Linked DNA regions of Homo sapiens: region 2 is linked to region 1. Evidence: fine-mapped expression QTL. Tissue or cell type: tibial artery. Region 1 holds a variant in brackets; the other region holds the start of a gene. All regions are shown on one strand. Distances are between the middles of the regions.

What was found. PIP is the estimated chance that this variant, and not a neighbour inherited with it, causes the effect.
Region 2: it holds the start of F3, and the variant in region 1 is fine-mapped to the expression of F3 in tibial artery (GTEx, PIP 0.99).

What each region holds. Positions count from the first base shown.
Region 1 is chr1:94,653,059-94,661,567 of GRCh38, forward strand. The region is part of intron 3 of SLC44A3-AS1 (SLC44A3 antisense RNA 1); the gene reads right to left. Among named protein-coding and RNA genes, the nearest start is that of MIR378G, 89 kb to the right of the region's middle. RefSeq lists enhancers at 6,249-6,767, 8,245-8,509. The variant A/G (reference allele first, on the strand shown) is at 5,135.
Region 2 is chr1:94,536,917-94,545,425 of GRCh38, forward strand. F3 (coagulation factor III, tissue factor) reads right to left here and starts at 4,843. Exons shown (of 6, transcript NM_001993.5): 1 at 4,621-4,843; 2 at 3,341-3,452. The coding sequence starts at 4,720. MIR12133 (microRNA 12133) reads left to right here and starts at 6,786; the gene lies at 6,786-6,863. LOC124904223 (a long non-coding RNA gene) reads left to right here and starts at 5,058. Exons shown (of 2, transcript XR_007066234.1): 1 at 5,058-8,509. RefSeq lists a silencer at 4,763-5,042.

The DNA.
Region 1 (8,509 bases):
GGTGCCTGTAGTCCTAGCTACTTGGGAGGCTGAGGCAGGAGAATGGTGTGAACCCGGGAGGCGGAGCTTGCAGTGAGCCGAGACAGCACCATTGCACTCCAGCCTGGGCAACAGAGCAAGACTCCGCCTCAAAAAAAAAAATACAAAAATTAGCTGGGCTTGGTGGCATGTGTCTGTAATCCCAGCTATTCAGGAGGCTGAGGCAGGAGAATTGCTTCAACCCGGGAGGTGGAGGTTGCAGTGAGCCGAGATGGCACCACTGCACTCTGGCCTGGGCAACAGAGCAAGACTCTGTCTCAAAAAAACAAAAACCAAACAAACCTAACCCACTTTCCATCAATCCATCAATCAGCTTTCAACGAGCACCCCTTTAATGCTCCGCACTTTTGCACTTGGGCTGAGCCCTGCAGGGTCACACATGAAGTGGAAGCCATAGTACCTGCCTGTGAGGATGTGGTCTTGGTGAGGAGGCCAGACCAACACCCATGAACGCATCACAAACCACAAAAGACCATAGAAAAGCAAGCATCAGACTGTGCATGGAGTGCAAGCTGGTGCAGTGGGAGTCCCAAGGACAGGAGGTGGACAGGACAAGGGCTTCAGCACAGAGGTGAGGCTTGAGCTTTAGAGATCCCAGGGGTGGCCTTGAGATCTACATGCTCCTTTGAGTGTAAAGGGCTGATCGTTCTGAGAGGAGGAAAGGCATCACCCCTCACTTTCTGGGTCCCCTGCTCCTTGCAGGACCACCTGCACAACACCACGGTGCTCAAGGGCTATCAGTGAAGGAAAAGGGAAGAAAGGAACAAATGGCCTGTGGCGGGGTAAAAAACAACTCCAGCTCTTCCTACCAGGCCAACTTTTGTGACTGGCTCCCAGGCTGCCTTGCCTCTGGGGTTCAAGGGAGGCTTGTCTTCTGAGAGTCGGTAGGATTAGACAAAAACTCCAGCTCTGTTCCAAGGGTCTATCAATATCCTCATAGCTGGGTATGTTAAGTGCTGGTATATTTACCCTGTTTAATCATGGTTCCATCCCTCTGAGGAAAAAGCTGATTACAGCCACTTGGGGAGAGAGAAATAACAGTGACCTTCTGCAGAACCAGCGATAACTTATTCCTTGTAAGGAGTGGATAAACAAAATGCCCCACACTCATCACTCAGGAATGTGCACCTCTTTGTGTGTTCTTCCTAACAGTACCTAGTAATTGGGCTCAACACCTCAGTGCAGCATTTCCTGTCATCTCTGGGACAGCAGAGTGGAGGTGACCTCCCTTCCCACTCATTGGAGAGAACATTAATTGCTAGAGGTAATCCTAACCATAAAGTTTCTGGATCAGAGTTGCAATTGCATTGAATAGGAATAAAAGGCTGTTAAAAGGAAGATTTCTATTATCTGAGAAATCAAACTTTCTAGCAGCTTTAACACCTATTCACAATGGGTTTTTATTCAATCCCCATTAAAAGAAGTCAAAAGTTACAGGAATCAAAGCCAAAGTCCCTCCAGAAGCTAACATAGTAATAAAACCATCAGTAATTTTAATGATTGTTTACATATAGTGCCTCCTCTAGGTCAGGCACTTTACTTATGATCTGTTAATTCCTGTATTAACCTAGTAATTATACCCAATTTTATAAGAGCAAATATTAAAGCTCAAGGAGAGATTACGTCATTTGCCAGAGTTCACACAGCTAACAAGTGGAAAAACAGATTTGAACCTGTTTTCCTGACTCCAAAGCCAGCAAAGTTCTTTCAACTGGAGCCAGAAATACCCTAATGCCCATGGGTGACCAGGGTCCCTTCTGGGCCATGTGGTGTGGAGAATGAGTTTGACCACCCCAAATTGTCTTGTTCCTCAAGAGGATTTCCCAGACCTTCAAGGAATAAAATAATGTTGTGTTTTCTCCTAAACTGGTTTTCATCCAAATCTTGTGTTGCTCAGAAAAACATGGAGCCAGAAAGCCAAATTCCAGAGTCCTCTCTGTGGTCATCCCGGGAGGGGCCCAGGCAGCAGGGATATCCTAGGCCTATTCATGAGATGCTCCAGGTTTAGCCTCCCTCTCCCCGGTTGGCCTGGCAGCCTGTTCACTGGCTGCTCTCATAAGCCACCCAGGCTGCGTCCCTCCAGCTCCCATCGCTAGTCAGCTGGGCCAGACCCCACCCCTGTATTCAGTGTGGTTGCCAGACATGCAGCCCCACCATGATCCCCATTCTTCATTCAACCAATATTATGTACCCATTATACATGCAAGGTACAGTCATAAGCTCTTGGGGGACAAGACAGAGATAATCCATGATCTCTGTGAGTGGTCATTCAGGAATATGGAGTGAATGCTCAACCAGTTACTCAACTAATTGCTTAATTACAATTGTATAAATCCTTCAGAAGTTGCCAAGTTGCTAAGGGAGTGTGCAACTGGGGTGGGGATGGGGGGCTTGACTAGGACTGAGGGATGAGGAAAAGCCTCTCCTAGGAAGAAGACAAGAGGGCTGAGGCACACAGAAAGAGGGGTCAGTGGTACAAAATGAGGCCAGAATGGTCAGCAAGGCTCCATCTTGAGGGCCTTTATAGGGCTGGAATTTATCTTAGGAACAAGGAGACTCCATTGAAGGGTTCAGGTTGTGAATGATACATGTGTATGGATCAGGGAAGAAAAGAATGATATGTCTACCAAAAAATTCTGAATTGTGCTGAGAATTAACAACTGTCTTTTTAGCCTTTTGTCTCCCTAAAATAGTAAGTTTCCAGTAACTCACAGGTTGACAATTAAAGGGGTTGTAATAGATGTCCTTTTAAAAAAATAATTTTTTAATAGACAAGGTCTTGCCTGTTGCCCAGGCTGGAGTGCAGTGGCACAATCAAAGCTCTCTGCAGCCTCAAACTCCTGGGCTTAAGCAATCCTCCTGCCTCAGCCTCCTGAGTGGCCTGGACTAAAGGCATGAACCACCACACCCAGCTAATTTTATTTTTTGCAGAGACTTGTTCTCCCTGTGTTGCCCAGGCTGGTTTCAAACTACTAACCTCAAGCAATCCTCCTGTCTTAGCCTCCCAAAGTGCTGGGATTACAGGTGTGAGCCACCATGCCCGGTCCAATAAGTGTTCATGATAATGTGGATTTGTTCTTGACAATCAGGACTCAAGCCCAGGCAATCTTCTGCAAGTCAGAGTATTCACCCACCCCTGCATCAGTCTGAATCTGGAAAACTCTTCTGGCACAGCCACGTTTCAGTGAGTAGGCCCACCCTGCCCCATTCAGAGGGGTGGATTGGAAGAGGCACTTAGGGCCAGTCTGGAGGAAAGAGACAAGGCAAAGAGTAGGATGGTGCCGGGACCTCAAGGACCGATTCCTTTTATCAGCGTTGTCCACATGGGTTGCTCTTCTGGGCCCTAGGAAAGCATTAGAGACCCCCAGACATGATTCTCAGAGTCTGCCCTGACATGTCACCCCAGAAGATCGAGGTCTTTGGTCCTTGAGCCCTTTACTTTGAACACGAGAAGTGTTTGCTCGTGGGATCTACACAAGTCTTTTTTTTTTTTTGGAGATGGAGTCTCGCTCTGTCACCTAGGCTGGAGTGCAATGGCACAATCTCAGCTCACTGCAAACTCCGCCTCCCCGTTCAAGCGATTGTCCTGCTTCAGCCTCCCAAGTAGCTGGGATTACCGATGCCCGCCACCAGGCCCGGCTAATTTTTGTATTTTTAGTAGAGATGGGGCTTCACCAGGCTGACCAGGCTGGTCTTGAACTCCTGACCTCAGGTGATCCACCCCCTCTGGCCTCCCAAAGTGCTGGGATTACAGGCATGAGCCACCATGCCCAACCTCAAGTCTTTTCTGATCCTAACATTCTGGGACCTAATCACTTCAAAGGAGACATGCCATTTCCAGCTGAGGCCCCAAGAGGAATGTTTTATGGTGGACAACTCTGAGGGCTGGCATGGGGCCTGGAGAGGGAATGGAAAGGAAGAAGGGAGCTGATGGGAGGTCCACAAGGACTTTTGTTGAATGGTGGGGAGGGGGCAAGGCAGAAAGCAACTTATGGCATGATTCTACCCAGAGACAGCCCAGCCTTTGAAAACTTGCCTCGCCCAGAGTGAGAAAGATTTAAACAACACACACACACCCACACACACACCCACATACGCCCCCCCATCATACATATATTCCATGCATTTCTTAATTAAGGGAATGCTAACATTTCTTTAAAGTACAGTTCTTAAAATGATATTTGGAGACCACATTCTTTAACTTGTGAGAATATACCTCCAACCTCTTAATAAAATTGTGATTAAAAAAAACTTTCTCTAATTGTGGCTAAATTTGATGTCATTGATTAAAATGTATGCCAATTTGCAACATTAATAACCTTGTTGCTATGCCTGTTCTACCAAAACCCTTTTCCTAGTATTTCTTACATCACCACACATCTGAAAAAGTTTCTTTCATGCGCGTCCGTGTGAAGAGACCACCAAACAGGCTTTGTGTGAGCAACATGGCTGTTTATTTCACCTGGGTGCAGGCGGGCTGAGTCCGAAAAGAGAGTCAGCGAAGGGAGATAGGGGTGGGGCCGTTTTATAGGATTTGGGAAGGTAATGGAAAATTACAGTCAAAGGGGGTTGTTCTCTGGTGGGCAGGGGCGGGGGTCACAAGGTGCTCAGTGGGGGAGCTTCTGAGCCAGGAGAAGGAAATTCACAGGGTTAATCACTCAGTGAAGGTGGGGCAGGAACAAATCACAATGGTGGAATGTCATCAGTTAAGGTGGGGCAGGGCCTTTTCACTTCTTTTGTGATTCTTCAGTTACTTCAGGCCATCTGGGCATATACGTGCAAGTCACAGGGGATGCGATGGCTTGGCTTGTGCTCAGAGGCCTGACAGTTTCCACTGGGCTTCTCCCCTCCAAAGAGTTCCTGGGATGGCCTTGGGATCCACGTGGTGGGAATCAGCCCACAGGTGGGGGAGGGGAAGGTGCTCTTCACCTGTGTTGCATCAGCAGCGTGAGCTGCTGCTATCAAGTGTTGAAAAGAATGTGAGACAAAAAGAGATAATATTTGAAATGGAAAGAAAATAGTATTACTAAGCCAAGTGATCAAATATTGCCAATTTTGCTTGCCAGCTATCATGAACTGATAACAAATTAGCAAA[A/G]GGCCAAACTTACATGCACGAAGTTGTCCTAAGCAGTGGCCAGATCCAGACATAACACATATCTCTAGATATCATTCATGGCTTACAAGCTTTGTAGTCTTTGCCCTGTGATGAGGCTATCCTCCCAGCGGGGTAGGAGGAAATGATTCCTTGTGCTCTAGCTGGTTGTAGTGGCTTATACTCTGGCCAGGAGGTCAGAAAACTGTCACAGAACCAACTCTACTCATTATTTGCTGTGTGCTTTGGCCAAGTCTCCTAACTCATTGGAGTCTGTATTTCTTTATCTCTGAAATGACAGCAACACTCAACACACGTTGACTGAGGACAGACTGTATGCTAGTCTGAACTATGTGTGAGTGAACACATAGTCATCACTTCCATGAGAGTGGAATAGTCGATATAAAACTCAGTACCACATGTGAGTGACTCCAAATATTACAGCATCCTCATTTGCTAAATGAACTCTTAAGAAAAGGTTTTTACTTTTATATTTGTTGATATTAAAATATATCAGGATGTTAATTAAATAGACAAATGTCTGTGCATAATAATGTGTTATTTTAATTACTTATAGGTAAAATCACATGCTATTCATTAATTTGTAAATCTTGATTAAAATGTTGAGTTTTCATTATATATTTAAAAATCACAGCCAGGCACAGTGGCTCACGCCTGTAATCCCAGAACTTTGGGAGGCCAAAGAGGGCAGGTCACCTGAGGTCAGGAGGTCAAGACCAGCCTGGCCAACATGGTGAAACCCCGTCTCTACTAAAAATATTTTTTTAAAAATTAGCCAGACATGGTGGTGGGGACCTGTAATCCCAGCTACTCAGGAGGCTGAGGCAGAAGAATTGCTTGAACCCAGGAGATGGAGGTTGCAGTGAGTTGACACGGTGCCACTGCACTCCAGTCTGGGTGAGATAGTGAGACTCCGTCCCAAAAAAAAAAAAAAAAAAAAAAAAAAAAATCACATCATGTTTATAATGCAGAAATACTGCCTTTACCCACTCACAATGCAATACTTTTAATCAAATTCTTCCAGTGCACTTTTGATATCAGTGTTTTGACATTCCCTATGGCCAGTCTTCAAGCCCATTTTTCAGAGCACAGCATCTTCATATTCATCTGGATTGCTTGAGATTCAGCACTTCTTGAATCTAAATATGATGTTGTCATTGAAAATTATACCTCATGCCATGATAGTTTTTTCCCTATTTGTGATCTCATAAGATAACTGTCACGCCTCTGAGCCCAAGCTAAGTCATCATATCCCCAATGACCTGCATGTATACATCCAGATGGCCTGAAGCAACTGAAGATCCACAAAAGAAGTGAAAATAGCCTTAACTGATGACATTCCACCATTGTGATTTGTTTCTGCCCCACCCTAACTGATCAATGTACTTTGTAATCTCCCCCACCCTTAAGAAGGTTCTTTGCAATTCTCCCCACCCTTAAGAAGGTTCTTTGCAATTCTCCCCACCCTTAAGAAGGTTCTTTGTAATTCTCCCCACCCTTGAGAATGTACTTTGTGAGATCCACGCCCTGACCCCAAAACATTGCTCCTAACTCCACCGCCTATCCCAAAACCTATAAGAACCGATGATAATCCCACCACCCTTTGCTGACTCTCTTTTCGGACTCAGCCTGCCTGCACCCAGGTGAAATAAACAGCATTTTTGCTCACACAAAGCCTGTTTCTATGCAGCCACAAAAATTGATGAGTTCATGTCCTTTGTAGGGACATGGATGAAGCTGGAAACCATCATTCTCAGCAAACTATCTCAAGGACAAAAACCCAAACACCGCTTGTTCTCGCTCATAGGTGGGAATTGAACAATAAGAACACATGGACACAGGAAGGGGAACATCACACACCGGGGACTGTTGTGGGGTGGGGGGAGGGGGGAGGGATAGCATTAGGAGATGTACCTAATGCTAAATGACGAGTTAATGGGTGCAGCACACTAACATGGCACATGTATACATATGTAACAAACCTGCATGTTGTGCACATGTACCCTAAAACTTAAAGTATAATAATAATAAAATAAAATTAAAAAAGAAAAGCCTGTTTGGTGGTCTCTTCACATGGACACGTGAGACAATAACCACATATCCTTCAAGTATGGTATATTAATAATGTTGACTTTCAACATGATCTTTATATGGTTTGTTTACTGTGACCTCCAACACTCAACAATTGAGAGGTCAGAGCCTCAGGAATAATTGCCAAACGTGTCAGATTTCTTTGCCACTTTTTTTCCTGTATTACCAGTAGTCTTCCATAAGATCCCACATTAGCATTACTTTAGATGGCTTAAGACTAACATATGTTCATCAAAAACAAGGTTGGTGTCTGAAATAAAGTGATTGAATGCTTTGTGTTCTGTAAAGACTCTACTATAAGATGACTCCAACAGATAATTTTGAGGAGAAAAGGCATAATTATATGTGATAATTATAATAAAGGCTAGAGGGCATTAATAGCTCCAGATGAAAAGTGTTCAGAGATAAGAGAGAGTATAGACTAGCTATATGTTTAATCATTGAGTTGTTCATTTTTCTTAACCTCTTTACCTAGAAAATAAGGCCAATCAACAATACCTCAGAATGTTGCTAGGAGGAGTAAATGAGGTTATAAATTCTAGCATAGTGCCTGGCTTGAAGGTGTACTTAGGGTGAGGGCCATCATTCCCTGAGTTCTTCCAGCTCTGCTCCCACTTGTGACTTTATGGGATGTTAAAGGAAAAGGAACAGGGGCAGGACAAGACAGGAACAAAGTATCTTTGCCCATTGTTCAGCTGAGACAGATTAGAGTTTTTCCAAAGGTGCTTTCCCAAGAACCAAAGGAAAACTAAGACCTAAAGACACAAAGACTGTAGTTACAGAGCCCCTCCCCAGATCTCAGTGTCATTGTTCCTTTCTGCATCCTTCAGTCCTGTGGCATTTTCCTCTGCTAGTCTCACTTGTACATGCAGCCACTATGGAATGCTGGGGCCATGTGAGAGGAGGGGATTTGCATAACAGTAGAAAACCACTGGGATTTGGAGTAGGGTGAACTGACTTTAAGTCAGCCTCTACCTTTCACTGGCTTTAAGATTTTGCAAATGTCCATTTGCCTCTCCAAGTCCCAGTTTCTTTATCCTTATGTAAACAAAAAAGTGAGACAGATCTCAATCAATTTATTTTGTCAAGGTTAAGGACATTTGCAGAAGAAATAAAGACAGAGTCACAGAAAGAGGAGAAAGGCCTGTGCCTTTCTCCAAAGATGATTTTGAGGGCTTCAATATTTAAAGGGGAAAAGTGGGCTGGAGGGGAAAGAGGGAGGGTATGGTAATCCAAGGGAGGGTATGGTAATTCAAGAGAAAAGGA
Region 2 (8,509 bases), 120 kb before region 1:
TTTGATATAATCCTTCCAAGAAGGTGTTGGATCTTTCTTATCCATGAGGACACTGAAGCTCACAGGCACTAAGCAACTTGCAGAAGGTCACATATCTAACGAGTGGCAGAGCTGGGTCTGTTTGCCCCATTATACTACATGCCTCCCTTCCTTTGCAAGATGTGAATCCATCCCAACAAAGATTACAGAATAAGAGTACAGGTAGTATCTGTCTAATAAAGTCTGAGACTAAAAAGCTAAAGACAGATCTTTCTTTTGTGAGACGTCACTGAAGGGGAAATGATTTAAAGGACTTCTACTGACAATGAAATTCTTCTAAATGACCAAAATAATAAATAGGTGAAGCGTCACTGCAACTTGATTCACACACTTCTGTCCCATGGAAAGTGACAGTTATGCTGCTCTTCCCTTTGGCATTACTGACTGCCAGAGCCAGACCCATCGTTCAAGGCCAGGTCCCAACTCCACCTGCTCCAGGAATCTCCAGATCTCCCTGCTGAGCATTTACATCTCCCTCCCCTGTCCCCCAGCATGAGTTTCTCCACGATGCTGTTAATATGAACACAGTCTGCCTGGTACGAGGGCTGCATGCCCTTGTGTGCCCCCATTAAGCAGCAGGGCTATAGGGTCTCGCTGACTATTAGATGGTTTGCATTTACAGGTTGAATTAATACATAATCTCAGGGAAAACGAGGCACCACATGGATTCCATTGTCTAAATTCACACATAAAAGCCACAAATATATTTTCTTTCAAAATCTGAACTAAGTAACCAGGCCAAAAGGATTTGGGTAAACACATTCTTTATCCTAAAGTGCACAAACTAAGATTGATACTGAAATATTTTGGTTTCTATTTATTTAATTTTATGTGATAAAAGTAGAGAGGGTATTTTGTTCCCGAATGACCAAAATGTGTTTTATTTTATCATTTCCATTTCAAAAAGTGAATGAGACTATGCTGTTTCCTTTTTATCAGTACAGCAAATAGTTGTTCAGATAACAGGAGAAAGTCTCCTAGGGCTTTCTATGTAACATAGAGATACAGTATTTGGTTCCTCCCAGCTCACAGCAGGGACCACATACTCTATAGCAAAATTTAGCACAAGGATTTATACAGTACCCTGGTAAGTAGTAAAACTGTATAAACAGGTAATGAAGGGACAATTCTGTAGAAAATCCCTCTGAATGCCATTAATAGCATTAACACTTTAAAAGCCTCCAAGGTTCCTCCAGGCATTGCAAAACCCTCTGATTTGGAATTTTGAGTTAACTAAAAAATTCAGTCACTAATTTGGTTGCAGGTTGTTTTCCAGAAGCTTTGTAAATTCAGCTTTAGAATTCAGAACATTTCCATGGAATGAATATCACCGGTGACGGTTTGTGCTAAGGCTTAAGCCAATAACATTTCCCAACCACCACTGAAAACTGTTAGCAAAGGTGAAAAATGCAGTTGGAGTTCCAAGTAGGGGCTTCTGCACAGCAGTAGTGTCCTGCGGCTGGAGCCAGGCTGCAGTAGTGAGAGCAGTCGGGAGGGAAGAGGGGCAGCTGCTTAAGATGCTAACTGTAGGGAGGGAAAACAGGCAGAGAGGAAGGCCAACTGAGGAGATGCAGTGGGCAAGACTTTCCTTCTTCCTCCCGCTTTGGAGCCTCCCATCAGACTGTGGCAGAGCCACCTGAGGGATGGTGGTGTGTGGATACTGGGTAGACTTTGGTTCCAGACCTGACATGGGCACTCACCATCAGTGTAGTCATGAATAAATCCCTCACTTCTCAGAGCAACAGTTTCCTCAACTGTAAAATGACTGCTCTGGTCCTTTTTAACCAGGAATCTCATTTATTCCTGGGGTGGGCAGGAGAAGAGTGCACACCTCAGGCCGAGGCTGATGGAAAAGCTCCCAGGCCCTCCAGTACAGCAGCAAGAGATTGTTCAGTCCATAGGACCACCCTGAGTCGGCTGGCATCCCCCAAGCTGTAGCCCTGCGCTCTGCTGTTTGCAGATCAGGAGCTGTGCTCATTTAAATAACAGCAGCCTTATAAAGTTCAAGAACTTACAGTTAACAAAGGCTTATGTTTAAAAAGCAGATGAATCATAAATATATTCCCATGTGTCCCTCAAATATTAGATTGAATATATTTAGGAGGTAAGCATTCCTCCCAAAATCTAATTTTTACCATATGGAAGTAAAGTGTTTACTAAGGTAAACTTCAGGCCTGTATCAGAGAAATTACTTACTAATTCTCAATTGGTGAAATCTGAATTGACAAGTTTGACCAGAACTGTAATCATTATTTCATGTTATGAAATTCCTTCATCTTTCTCTCCCCCCACCCCCATACATATCCACACATGCATGCACGTATGCATGCAAGTTCTCCTTGCTGGTTTGGCAACTACTGTCATGAAGTTCATTTTGAAAAACAAGAACATTCACTTAAAAGATGCATCGTTATCTAGAAGTTGCATTCCTAATGCTGTAAAAGGCCTGGCACAAGCTAAAACAAAACAGAACAGCAAAATACCTTTTGTTTTAGCTAGTGCTACTTTTGTACTTTTATGTAATTAGCATTAAAATAATTTCCACAGCAGCTATTCTCTATTTCATAAGATCTCTACCAAGCCTCCTAGAACATTTCAAAAACCAAAAACTTGCCAAGAATATGGTGAAAACCATCAAGGAAGTCATAACCTTTAGATTGAACATGCTGAATTATCGCCTCCTGGGGACAGCTGCCAGTCAGAGTTGAGGCACCAAGAAGCAGAGCCACACCAGACCCAGAGGGTGCAGACAGCAGAGTATTTCTGCTCTGCCAGGCTCAGTGAGTCACGCATTTGGCCTCCTCCACTAAGATCATGTATTCTACCAGATTTCGATTCATGGAGTCCAAAGATGAATGAATCAAACACTGCTTAAGGGCAATGTATACATTGGGATTCCTCCCCACCTCTTCCCTAAGGTGTTAGACATTGTTCACAGTCTAGACAGCAACAGAAAAAGACATCAATGTTTAGATGAGATTAATTAATCTATCATGACCCAAAGCACACTTCAGTGCCTACTCAAGATGGTTCATCTCTCCACAGTTTATACTCCACTTAGGAACTCTCCCATCATTTCCAAAAACAATTAAAACAATTAAAATGTTCTATCAGTTTAAGGTCTGGAAATGTTGCAGGCCTAATAGAGTATGACACCGGCCAGCGAATTGCCAAGAATCCCTTCTTCTTCGTCATCTGTTAAATAATTTCATCCAGTAATCAGCTTTAAAGACATTCTTGTTCAGCATAGGACAGTAGAAACATCAAAGACCTTAATTTTCTTTTTCTGTACCCAGCTTACCTTATTTGAACAGTGTAGACTTGATTGACGGGTTTGGGTTCCCACTCCAAAATTGTCTTGAAATTAGTTGATTTCCAAGTTAAATTATATGCTGCCACAGTATTTGTAGTGCCTTTAAACAACAGAGAAACAGCTATTATTACATGCACTTCAGAGCACTCGAATGTATTGATGTATAAAACACCTTCCCACCTGACATCACCATAAACCTCACTTTTTATTTTTCAACCACAAAAGCTTCATTAGTGAATTATCAAGAGAAAAAGAATCTTCAAATTTTTTCTAGACCTAGAATTTCTTCATGACAAGATTCACCTTGTAATCCCAGGACACCGGCAAGGATCTTGACATTTTCGTTTGAAATTATTCATGGGCAAAGCCTTGTTATAACTTGACCGGGAAGAGCCCAGAGCCATCAGTGTGCCAGTCCAGGACTCAGCTCAGGAAGAGTCAGGTTCAGCCCGCCAGGAAGGGTTTTCAGTAAGTTATGGAAAAAGATAAATCCCACACGTGTGACAAGAGTTAGGACTGCATACAAATGAAAAAAGCCAAACTTCACTTTTTCCACTTTTATCTGAAATGTCGCTACACTGAAACTTCCACAGAGACCCACGGGGACGTGTGGCCTGTCACACCGTCGGCTGTATTGGATCAGGATTATTTCTTATGAAGGTCTGCTTTGCCAGTACGCAGCAGGTCCCAGTCTCTACGCCGTCCCGAACACCTCGTAGAAATACGGGGCATGCACAACGTTGTACCTGCTCCAATCTAAGCAGCAATCCAGCCCTTTTGGATTGCCTCTACCCAAACCTAGAACAAAGATGGCCAGGAAAAGACCAGGGACGCTCTTTATTAAGGGAAGATGCACATATAATGAAAGATAATATCCAAACCTCTGCACGCCAACACGTGCAGACGCAGGCACAAGTCCTATCATATTGAAGGTCGCAACTCACTGGGAAGCCCTTTCCCCAGAGTTAAAGCGGGAGCTAAAAGTCCGCTTATGCAACAACAGTCCAATTACTCGGACACCCCGAGCAAAACTCTCCAGCGGAAGGGGCAGCGGGGTCTGGGGCGCCAACTCCCTCCCTGCAACTCCCGCCGGCGCCCGACGGACTCGGTTCATTCAAGCCGGGCTGGGTGAGCGCAGCCGAGTCCCGTAGGCGCGGGGGACAACATGGGCGCCCCGGGGAACCAGGGCGAGCCCGCTGCCAGCCAGGACTGTCGCCTCCCTCCTGCGTGTGGCGCGCCCCGGGCTTCCAGGGGCTGGTGCCACTCACCTGAAGCGCCGGCCACCTGGGCGAAGACCCAGCCGAGCAGGAGCGTCCGAGCGACGGCGGTCTCGGGGCGCGGGACCCGGGGCCAGGCAGGGGTCTCCATGTCTACCAGTTGGCGGCGAGATCGAGCGGGTTCCGTGGCGCCCGTGGGGCTGGGGAGGTTGGGCTGAAGGCGCCCTGGGCCGGCCAGAGGGAGTGCGAGGGGGTGCGGGGAGCTCGCAGTCTTGGGGAGCCGGTGCCCCGCGCGCTATAAAGGGCCGGCGGCGCGCTCTCCCGCGCCTCTGCCCGCCCCCGGCGCCCGCCCCCGCCGCTCCTCCCGACTCCCCGCCCCCGGCCCGGGTCACTTGCCGTCGCGGTGGGCGGCCCCCGGCGAGTCCACACCCCTGCCCCGCCTCCTCCCGGTAGGAAACTCCGGGACCCTGCAAGGGATGACTCACCCCAGTGATTCAACCGCGCCACCGAGCGCGGAGCTGCCCTGGAGGACGCAGGCGGGTCTAGTTGCCCGGGTCCCCCAAGGCCCCCGGATTCACCCAGGCCCGCGACTCCGACGTGCAGCTTAGGTGGGTTGCAGGTCTATGGCAGGAAAGGGAGGGCGCCTTGGAAGAATTCTTCCCTTCCATTTGGTGATAAAGTGGGAGAGGCGGCATTTACAACATTTAATAGAAAGCACGGGCTCTGGGCTCCCCTCGGGCAGCGGAGGGCATTTCCCGGATGCTTTGCCCACCTGGGGCAGAAGCTCGGGACCTGCAGCGAAGTAAACGTGTGGCTGTGAGCAGGGCCCTCTCCCAGCCACGGTGGCTTCTTCTACCCCACGAAGGTCAAGAATACCTGGCCTGCCCACCTCGCGGGGCCCTTAGCGGGTCGCACAGGAGAAAGGCGGTGGGAATGCCGGTGTCAGCCACGGTGTGACCGGCTCGGCTCACAGGTCTGAGGGTCAGTTGGCTCAGGCATCGCCCGGTACGACCAGAGATAGTGACTGAGGAAGAGCAGCCTCACATCTGGCAGTTTGCCTCTGGGAGAATTCCAGCGTGACATCTGCAGCTCTGTGGTTCCAGAAAGGATGGTTCCCACATTGAAGAAGACATCTGTGGGACTGAGTTCCACCGAAATGCAGAGGAACCAAAAATGAAAATGAAAAATGTAACCAGAGTTGTGTGCCACTAGTTTTAAGCTTTGGTTTTTCTAAATTATTTTCTGGCTTCTCCTTCTGGGCTTTGCTGTAAACTTGCCAAGCATGAGAACAACTCTTCATCTATTGAGTGGCATTTTAAGCCATCCTGTCAAAGTATCTCCTGTCATTTTTATTATTATTACTCTATATTGCCTGCAAGACACGACTGGAGAATTCTTAGTGTAAGAATTGTTTGTTTCCTCTCTCCTTCTTTCCCACGTTTTCCCAGGGAAGTCAGTCTTGCATTTTAATGCATACTATATACATATCTCGTTTAGCTTACTGAACCACTTGTTTTAACAGAATAAAACTGTGCAAAATTTTAATTTTCCTCCTTTGCCTGAACTGAAATAGCACATCCAGGTTTAGCCCTTGTAGACTTTCCTTCCTCGAAGCAGAAAGTTGCCCTTGATGATTTCCTCTTTGAGCTCTCTGCCAGCTCTGAAACCCACAAAATTTATGTTTGCAAAACTAAGCCATGCAATCCTCTTTTTATGCAGGCTCTAGCCTGAGTCATTTTCCCTAAGAGATCTTCAGCTCCACCTGGGATGTGATTCTTTGCTCTCTGGGATTGAAGGTAGCTGAAGAGAAATAGTTACACTTCAGGTTTGTTACAAGACCCAAGAAATTGTTGCAATTCCACTTGGAGTCACTGACTTTTCTGAAATCATATAGGGCTTTAAACAATGTCAAGATCAGCCATTTGATAAGAAAAATGTTTACCATTGGATTGTGATACACAATGTGCCTTAAATATTGATAAATTAGATGAATATTTATTTTGTATATCCATTAAAATAGACAGGAAAGAGAAGATGTTGGGTGTTTGCACAGGCTTTTTAGTCAGTACGGAATGACATTCTTCAAGATTTAAAAATGCTAAAATCATTACTATTTTCAAGAAGAGGGAGGAAGAAAACGTGGTAAATAATATTTCATTGCGAAGTGTTTTTCCCTGACTGATCTAATTGTGGCCAGATCTACTTTTTGACGGTGCGAAGTGTACTTTTTAATGGTGCCAAACAGCAGTTGATCTATAATAACTGCTGCTTGGCACCATTAAAAAGTACATATCTAAAATTTCACTGTTGAAATTTGTTCACAAGAACAAATTGACTGTTAAAATTATTCCCTAACCTTAACACAATTTTTTTTACTCCTGTCAGTAAAGTCAAGCTTAGCAGTTAACAGTTCCCTCCTCCATGATCTATCTTGGAGGCTCTGAGAAGTTCAAAAAGTTACTAAACTATAACAATAATCTCTCTGGCTTGACCAGTCCCTTTCTCATTGGATTTTAGGATGTCAGAGGATGGGAGAACCTCACAGACATTCTTTTATGGATGAGAACCCTGTGGCCAGCTGATCTGAGTAAACTGGCTTGCCTAACCACACAGTGCAGATCTGGTCTTCTGACCCCGGGGGCTTTCCTTCCATCACCAGGCTTTCTCCTACTCCCAATGAAGGAAAGTAAGACTGGGTGGTAAATCCATCAAATGAATGATTAATTAATCCATCCATAAGCACTCAAAAATGTTCTGCATGTACACAAAGTGCAGAAAAGTGCAAAACTGCACAAAAACTGCACACAAAGTATAGAAAATACTTTGCAGTTTGGGGAACTCATTGTTCTTAGGCAGAAATATCCTGATGGTTAGTCCTTGAAATAGACAGACAAGGAGACACGTAGAAGAGTTTGAATTCCCTTTGCATAACCAGTGATGAAATGTGGTTGATGAGAAGTCTGAAAATAACTGCGGAGATGTTTCAGCCCTTCCACTGTACTTTTATAGTACTTGCTGCCAATTTTACCGACTCATTTTCATTGAGAACTTCACTTAATCTCACTTGTGTGTTTACCTGTTAATCTTTCCTGTTGGATTGGGTTTTTTGTCTGTTTTTTTCCTCTCTCAACCCTTTCCACAATTATCAGCACATAATAGGCACTTAATACCTTTTGAGTCAATGAATACTTTATAAAACTATGAGTGCAACCAAATATTTCACTGGTGTTCAAGAGATGAAATCTGTCACTGAAAACTCTTTCTAGGGGCCAGGCAGTGAGTGTTTCATGATGCTGAGATTGGTAAGAAAATACAAATCCATCATGACTGGAAAGGCACCACTCGACCGCAAGTTCTAGCAGTCTAACCAGTGATTAGCTATCTCTGCACCACCAGAAAATCTCACCAGGAGGAGAGATAGCTGAGAAGCAGAAACCAGATACAGAAGTTTGGAAACTAGCTAGCATTTTTTTAAAAGACTGGATTCTACGATGATTCAGAATATACTTCATCATGCGATGAGGTTGTTGATAGTTTTCCTTGCATACAGAGGCTGAATAACTTTTTAAAACAAATTCCTCAAAATGTTTATTTCCCAGGAAAGAGATAGGTTAAGATACATGATAGCAAGTAAAATTGAGAATAATTCAGAGAAACTTATTTTATGCATATGAAATGGTAAAAAGAGCAATGAAACCATTACCCAAAATTCAGGTAAAAGGCAAAGTATGAGAAAAGGCCAGAGGGAATTAGGAGTTAGTAGGAACACAGAGTTCTGGAGGAAAAGGAAAAAAGTGACTCAGCAGAACCTAAGAAACATCTGGCTGGGTATAGTTAGTCATGGAAAAATTGGCAGTCATGATTATGCATTTTGTGAAAATAGCAATATACTAGTCCAACAGTTCATTTAGACCAAAATTAAACAGTTGAAAGTCAGTAT